Linked DNA regions of Homo sapiens. The protein of the gene in region 2 interacts with the protein of the main gene of each other region in a pairwise test. Each region holds a gene or a part of one and is shown on either strand. Other genes may lie near its edges.

What was found. Proteins that work in one complex are often made in the same cells at the same time.
Region 1: the proteins of UQCRC1 (region 2) and C19orf25 interact in binary tests that used the Homo sapiens proteins (3 or more experiments, as listed by UniProt).

Annotation. Positions count from the first base shown.
Region 1 is NC_000019.10:1,472,682-1,476,340, forward strand, and holds the end of C19orf25 (UPF0449 protein C19orf25), read right to left. Parts: intron 2,578-3,659; coding exon 2,351-2,577; 3' UTR 520-2,350; downstream 1-519.
Region 2 is NC_000003.12:48,599,552-48,603,195, reverse strand, and holds part of UQCRC1 (cytochrome b-c1 complex subunit 1, mitochondrial precursor), read left to right. Parts: intron 1-1,728; coding exon 1,729-1,844; intron 1,845-2,077; coding exon 2,078-2,221; intron 2,222-2,355; coding exon 2,356-2,516; intron 2,517-2,628; coding exon 2,629-2,714; intron 2,715-3,044; coding exon 3,045-3,133; intron 3,134-3,485; coding exon 3,486-3,561; intron 3,562-3,644. UniProt on the Homo sapiens protein: Component of the ubiquinol-cytochrome c oxidoreductase, a multisubunit transmembrane complex that is part of the mitochondrial electron transport chain which drives oxidative phosphorylation.

The DNA of each region.
Region 1 (3,659 bases), on a different chromosome or scaffold from region 2:
TGTCTCCAGAAGGGGACAGGCAGTCCGCGGTCTCTGGACAATCAACTCAAGGTACGCCCACTGCAAGGCCTCCCTCCCACCGCGGCCCCTGCCTGGCCACCTGGCCTCTCTGCACCAGGGTGACAAGGGGTCCTCGTCTGCCCCCCAATGCTCCAGGGCCAGTCCTAAGGAGCTGAGGGTCTGAGGACGCAGGGAGGGTGGAGGTGTCCTGAGGCTGATGGACAGTGACCGCCACTGGCCCCCAACATGACCACACGTGGGTGCTGAACTCGGGGCGCCGTGCCCACCGGCATGGTCCTCCCGAGCTCCGACAGCATTACCTCACCCGGCCCCATCTGTTGCCCCGGTCCAGCCCTGATGGCGCGCGCCTGGTCTGTCTGATTCCCCTAGCCGCCACCCCACGTTTCTGTACCGGGTCTCTGCAGTGTTAAACGGACGTGTAAATAGTGGTAAATAGTGAAAGCCTGTCCTTCCCTAAATGTAAAGCCATCTGTCCGGCGTAAGGACGACACCGTCAGCTGTCCGACTCGCACACATTTAATAAACTGAGCTCTTGCATTGCCTGCCGCCATCACCTCTTCCTCAAAATGGGCTGTGGGCGGGTAGGTTCATCGCTGTCTATGTGCTGCCACAGAATTGCTGAGACCCCCCAGGTTAGATCCCTGGAAGCAGAGCCAGAAAGCAGAAACTGGGGGCACAGGGTTTGTGGGCACCCCACCCAGATGGGCCGGGGAGGCACTGGCTGAGGCCAGGAGTCTCCCCCTGGTCCCAAGGGAGGGCAGGCTCCAGGGGGTGCACAGCACCCCAGACAGGGGGTCCAACCTGGGCATTGGTACCTGGGCCAGTTATTATGGCAGGCCCCAGTGTGGGGCAGGAGGCACCCATGAGCCACTAGGAGCTGTGGCTGGTGCAACAGCTGGGATGGGGCAGCCACAGCAGCCACTACCGGGGAGAGTCAATGGTGGACAGGGGCTGCGGGAGCTGGGACGGCCCCACGTCAAAGCCACTTCAGGGAGCACAGCCCTGGCCCAGCTGGGGGGACAAGGAAAGCTATGACTGCAAGCAGCACAGAAGTGCAGGGTGGGAAGGGATGGCAGGAGCCGGCCCCCTCCCCACCTTCCACCCTGGGACACTGCCGGGACCTCCCTCGGCCAGGTGAGCAGCTTCAGAAGCATGACCAGTGAGAAGTCCCTAGGGCCCAGGCCGGGCTAGCCAAGTCCCAGTTTCTGGATGAGGCGCCTCCCAGGCTGTGTGTGGCAGGCCCCCTTTCTTCAGGGAATAAGAAACATCTTCCACATTCAAGAAACAAAGCTGGCTGTGGGTCTGGAGAGAGGGTGAGGCAGCCCCAGGTCTCTGGGTCAGGCGGACGGTCCCTGCATGCAGTGCCCGGCAGGACTGAGCAGGGTTCCCGGGGTCGCCGGTACCCATCCCTCCCCAGCTTCCGGGGCCCCGGGACGGAGCCGCTCACAGAGGCACCATTCAGACGGCCAGACACACACGAAAGCTTTATGTGCAGGGCCCAGCCTCTGGGCCGCCTTGCCCAGGTTTCCACTCAAGTTGCTATTTAGGATGAAAAGCCTTTGGCAAGACCCTCCGCCGCACTAACGCCCCCTCCCCCAGGGCCAGAACCCGCAGGGAAGCAGGCCCAGGACCTGCTGCAGCTGGCAGGGTGGCTATGAGACTCAGGACACCCTGGGCTCCTGGCCAGTGACTCACAGCGGTCCTCCAGCAAGGGCAGTGGCTGGGAGACACCCGTGCCGTGGAGCTAGGCCCAGCCTGGCTGGGTCTCAGGGCTGCTTCTCTTGGGTGACCCCAGCGGCCCAGGGTCGTTGTGAAGATCAACGTGGCTTGTGGGAGGAGCCCGGGGCCCAGAAGGAAGTGGGGTCAGGGGCTCAGGCTGGCCCTCGGGCTGCTCTGACATTGGGTGGGCACTCGCTGGATGGAATCACAGTTAACACCTCGATCCCAACACCTGGACTCAGAAGTGGACAGGCGAGTGCCTGCCCCGGGAGAGGAAGGAGGTGGCACCTGCTCCCAGGGGCCCCACTGCAGAGCACGGCCACTGTGAGCTGACGACAGAATCACAGTACAGCAATAATGTCCCTATCCTCTTCCAGAACCCCAGTGGGGCCCTCAGGTCACGCAGGACGGAGCCAGCTGGGTGGGTCCCACCAACTCGGCATGAATGAGACGACGGATGAACCGCAGCCCCAGCATCAGGAGGGGCGCCTGTGTCAACACCCACGTGGGCTGGGACCCCGTGAATGCCAGTCTGGGGCCGACGGACCCCCAGGGAAAGCCTGGGTGCAGGCCACCTTGTGCGCTGCCCAAGCCTGCAGGCCCCGAGAGGTCAGCCTGAGGAGGCAGCCTCGGCTGCCGGTAATGCTGCCTGCTTCATCTGGGCCACCTCCCGCTCCAGGTCCTCGCCGGCTCGCTGCAGGAGCTCACACCTCTGCCTCAGCACGTTGCCCGCCTGCTGCAGCCGCTGGTTGGCAGCCACGTAGGCCCGGCTTTGCTGGTAGAGCTGCTCTCCCGGGGCCTCCGCATCCTCCATCATCCTGAAGGGAACTGGGGGGTCTGAGACAGGACACAGCAGCATCACTGCCTGCTGACCACCCCATCCTCCTGGGCACCCCTCACTACTGCCCCCAAAGGGCAGGGTTCCCTGCAGTCCCCGAGTGAGCTTGCCAGCCGGGGTCTTCTTAACATGACGGATGCAGCCAGGTGTGGTGGCTCACGCCTGTAATCCAGCACTTTGGGAGGCCGAGGCGGGAGGAACACTTGAGCCCAAGAGTTAGAGACCAGCCTGGACAACATAGTGACACCCCCATCTCTACCAAAAAATACAAATACAAAAATTAGCTGGGCGTGGTAGCACGCATCTGTGGTCCCTACTTCTCTGGAGGCAGAGGCAGGAGGATCGCTTGAGACTGGGAGGCCGAGGCTGCAATAAGCTATGATCGTGCCACGGTACTCCAGCCTGGGTGACAGAATGAGACCCTGTCTCAAAAATAAATAAAAACAAAAATCAAGTAATGGAGGCTTCCTCGTCCATCAGCTGGGAGAGGCACAGTGGCTGGGTGGCAGGAGGGGCTTCCAGCTCTAGGCTACCCGCCTTAGCAAAGCGTGTGACCAGGGGGATCGGGTCACAGAAAGAGCTCAAGCCTCGCCAGCAGTGGCCCTCCTGGGGGCGGGGCTTCCATTCCTGCAAAAGCCGTGGCACCCACCGGGATGGACTCCACTGAGCTGGCCTGGCTCTCATTCCTGCTGTCTCTGGAAGCCAGAGACGCAACAAGCCCGCCACCGAAAACCTCTCCAGGGGCCGTGCAACCTCCTGGAGCACACACTTAGGGAGGCAGGGGTGGCGAAGGTGAGAGGTGGGCATTGACGTCCTGGTGACTCCCACATTCAGCAGAAACTACGTATGGCTCCCTGCTCCCCCACGTATGCAAGCCCAGTGCAGCAGGGCTGAAGCAGCACCGACTTCAGGGTCACTCAGAGAAGCGTCAGGGGCCCCTCGGCTCTGGCCTGCCCCTCGGCAGTGTGGTCTCCCACGGACGAAGGCTCCACGTGCCGCACGGGTCTGGGCTGATCAAATCACCTCTGTCATCACCTGCTTTAGCAACAGGGTGGGAAAGGCCGGGCAGTGCCTGGATGAA
Region 2 (3,644 bases):
AAGAAGTGCCTTGAAAGGAAGGCACAGAAGGGTGGGGAAGATTTCACTGGGGACTCAGAGTTGGAGTTTGGGGGAGGGGCTTTTTAAAGCACCTGTAGTTTGAACAGAAGCCTGAAAGGTGGTGAGTGTTATTTAGGTGGGGTGTGGGGAGCTGAGCGCAGGGGAAGAGCAGTGTCATGGTCTAAGGTTTGCTCTGCTGCTGTGTGGGGTCACAGTGCAGGTAGGCTGGCTAGAGAGGGGCTGTGGCAGGGACTGGGCAGGAGATGGCAGGAGCAAGGGGGAGCAGTAGATGGACTCCAGGTGGTTTTATAGATGGAACCTGGTTGGGGTCTGGACATGGGTAAGGAACTGAGGTCAAGGTGCTTCCCATCTTGGCTGGTCGTGGTGGCTCACGCCTGTAATCCTAGCACTTTGGAAGGCCGAGGTGGGTGAATCACCTGAGGTAAGGAGTTCGAGACCAGCCCAGCCAACGTGACAAAACCCCGTCTCTGGTAAAAATACAAAAATTAGCCAGGCTTGGTGGCAGTTGCCTATAATCCCAGCTACTTGGAAGGCTGAGGCAGGAGAATCCCTTGAACCCGGGGGACGGAGGTTGCAGCGAGCTGAGATTGTACCACTGCACTCCGGCCTGCACAACAGAGTGAAACTCCATCTCAAAAAAAAAAAAAAAAACAAACATGCTTCCCAGCTTATGACCTTGGCGGCTGAGTGTGCAGAAAAGACCAATAGGAAGAGCATGACCAGGGGCTTTGGAGCTGGGGAACCTGGGGGCAAGAGCAATCTGACGTGTGTGTCAGACTAGCAGGGCTTGAGCTCATGGAAGGAAGGAATGAAAGGCCAACGCAGGCCGGGCGCGGTGGCTCACGCCTGTAATCCCAGCACTTTGGGAGGCCGAGGCGGGCGGATCACAAGATCAGGAGCTCGAGACCATCCTGGCTAACACAGTGAAACCCCGTCTCTACTGAAAATACAAAAAAATTAGCCAGGCGTGGTGGCGGGCGCCTATAGTCCCAGCTACTCGGGAGGCTGAGGCAGGAGAATGGCGTGGACCCGGGAGGTGGAGCTTGCAGTTAGCTGAGATTGCACCACTGTGCTCCAGCCTGGGCAACAGAGCGAGACTCCGTCTCAAAAAAAAAAAAAAAGGCCAATGCAACTGGTGGCACCACAGAGCCCTCCTCTTGTGGAGGTGAGGAGGCAAGATCCAAGGAGTCCTAGGGTATACGTTTGTAACATTATTTGCAAATGTCCCCAGCTCTCAGGGGACCCAAGAGCTAATCACAGCCCTGTAATAGCTCCTCTTTCTGCCCCCTCACTTGCCACCCCCTGCAGGGCCAGCAGCCAGAAATACTTGAGGGAGAGCTAGAGGGAAAAGGCAGGCCAGGTGGCTTTGTGCCCAGGAGTACCAGTCTTGTCCTTGATGTAGGTGGAATGCATCTTCTCAAGTGAGAACCCACACTTGGATCACATGGCAGCCCATTTTGAAACTCTGAACGCTTTTGCTCTCCTGGGACTGAGGCCATGGGAGCTATTTGGCCCTGAGGTGCCTGTCCTGTCCACAAGGCAGGGTCTGTCTGAGGAGGACCTTCTTTCCTCACCCTGTTCTAATGTCACATACTCCTGGTTTCTCCCACTAAGACAGGACATGGGGGTCCTCTGCCTGTCTGTGAATCGCCCCACCCTGTGCCTTGGGCCCTGGCTGGTCAGTAATGCCACTGTCTGTCTCAGCAGGAGTGGAGCACCAGCAACTGTTAGACCTCGCCCAGAAGCACCTCGGTGGCATCCCATGGACATATGCAGAGGACGCTGTGCCCACTCTTACTCCATGCCGCTTCACTGGCAGTGAGGTATGCTGCCTTTTGGGCAGGAGTAGTGCTCAGCTGGGGGCCTGTGGGAGGACCCCCATGTGCATGGTTATCCTGGTGACTCCAGAGATACCTCAGCAGTTGGGAAGGGGTTCTGTGGCTGCTGCATCACAGGCACACATGTTCACACACATACACCCTCTACCCACACCTGCCACCTTTTCTGTTCCCCTGGCAGTCTGGCTGTTCCTCAGCCTTGTCATGTACTGTTTCAGATCCGCCACCGTGATGATGCTCTACCTTTTGCCCACGTGGCCATTGCAGTAGAGGGTCCTGGCTGGGCCAGCCCGGACAATGTGGCCTTGCAAGTGGCCAATGCCATCATCGGCCACTATGACTGCACTTATGGTGGTGGCGTGGTGAGTGCCAGCGCGAGCATGGGACCTCGCCTTCAGGGAAGAGAGGGTGCTGGGGCTGTGTGCTCCTGTGCGTGGGGGTCACAGTGTGCGTTGAAGACAAGAGGGTGGGTGCTGACCACCTATCCCCCTGGCAGCACCTGTCCAGCCCACTGGCTTCAGGTGCTGTGGCCAACAAGCTATGCCAGAGTTTCCAGACCTTCAGCATCTGCTATGCAGAGACGGGCTTGCTGGGTGCACACTTTGTCTGTGACCGAATGAAAATCGATGACATGATGTTCGTCCTGCAAGGGCAGTGGTAAGTGGCAGCCTGGTATTCCTAGGTGGGATGGCGGCTTTAACCAGCACAGTGGGAGGCTGAGAGATGACACACTGGCTCAGAATGAATACCACCCACCCCCCCACTTTAGGATGCGCCTGTGTACCAGTGCCACGGAGAGTGAGGTGGCCCGGGGCAAAAACATCCTCAGAAATGCCCTGGTATCTCATCTAGATGGTGAGTCCTACAGCTCAGCGGGGAGGGGTAGAGTACATCTTGCCAGCGACAGCACCAAGGTGGCCACTGCTCCTAACTAACCAAGGTTAGAAAGGAAAACTTTGAAGACCACGCCATGCCCCATCACCCCACCCTTGGAGATGCAGGCAGGTGTGAGACAGGTCCACAGCCCATCACTGCCATAATAGGTGACCATAGAAGAGAGGGCTGTGATCTGAGTCAGCATGAGGTCAGGGAGGTCCTTGTCAACCTGAGGCTGGAGATTGTTTGTGTACCTGTGGGTCCAGGATTGGGCTGGGTGGACCTCTGAGCCTTCTCTCACCCTTAAAGGCACTACTCCTGTGTGTGAGGACATCGGACGCAGCCTCCTGACCTATGGCCGCCGCATCCCCCTGGCTGAATGGGAAAGCCGGATTGCGGTAACATGGACCCCTGGGAGAGGTTCTGGAGTCTTGGCCTGGCAGACACCTGGGAGGTGTAGGGTTGGGGCCTGGCATAGCGCAGCCTGCTCCTATAGGCATCCCTGGTGTCCTAGGCAGCTGTCACCTGCAGGGGTAGCATAGTGGGAGGGCAGGGCATAGGTGCTGATGGCTGTGGAGATGGGCGGGGCCCATGGAGGTCTATAGCAGGGATCCCTTCTGCCTTTCCTCTTTTGGGCTGGGGACAGCTGCATGCTGCCTGTGGGAGATCTCTGCTAGTTGGATGATGCTGACTGGCTGAGGTGGTGGCCAGGTGCCCGTTAGCCAGTATGCCCTCTGCCTCACCCTGCAGGAGGTGGATGCCAGTGTGGTACGTGAGATCTGCTCCAAGTACATCTATGACCAGTGCCCAGCAGTGGCTGGATATGGTAAGTGGCCTAGGGGGTCTGCTCTTTGTTTATTTCCTCAGGCCGTTCTCTTGGCCTCCCCTTCCACCTCTGCTCCCGCACTG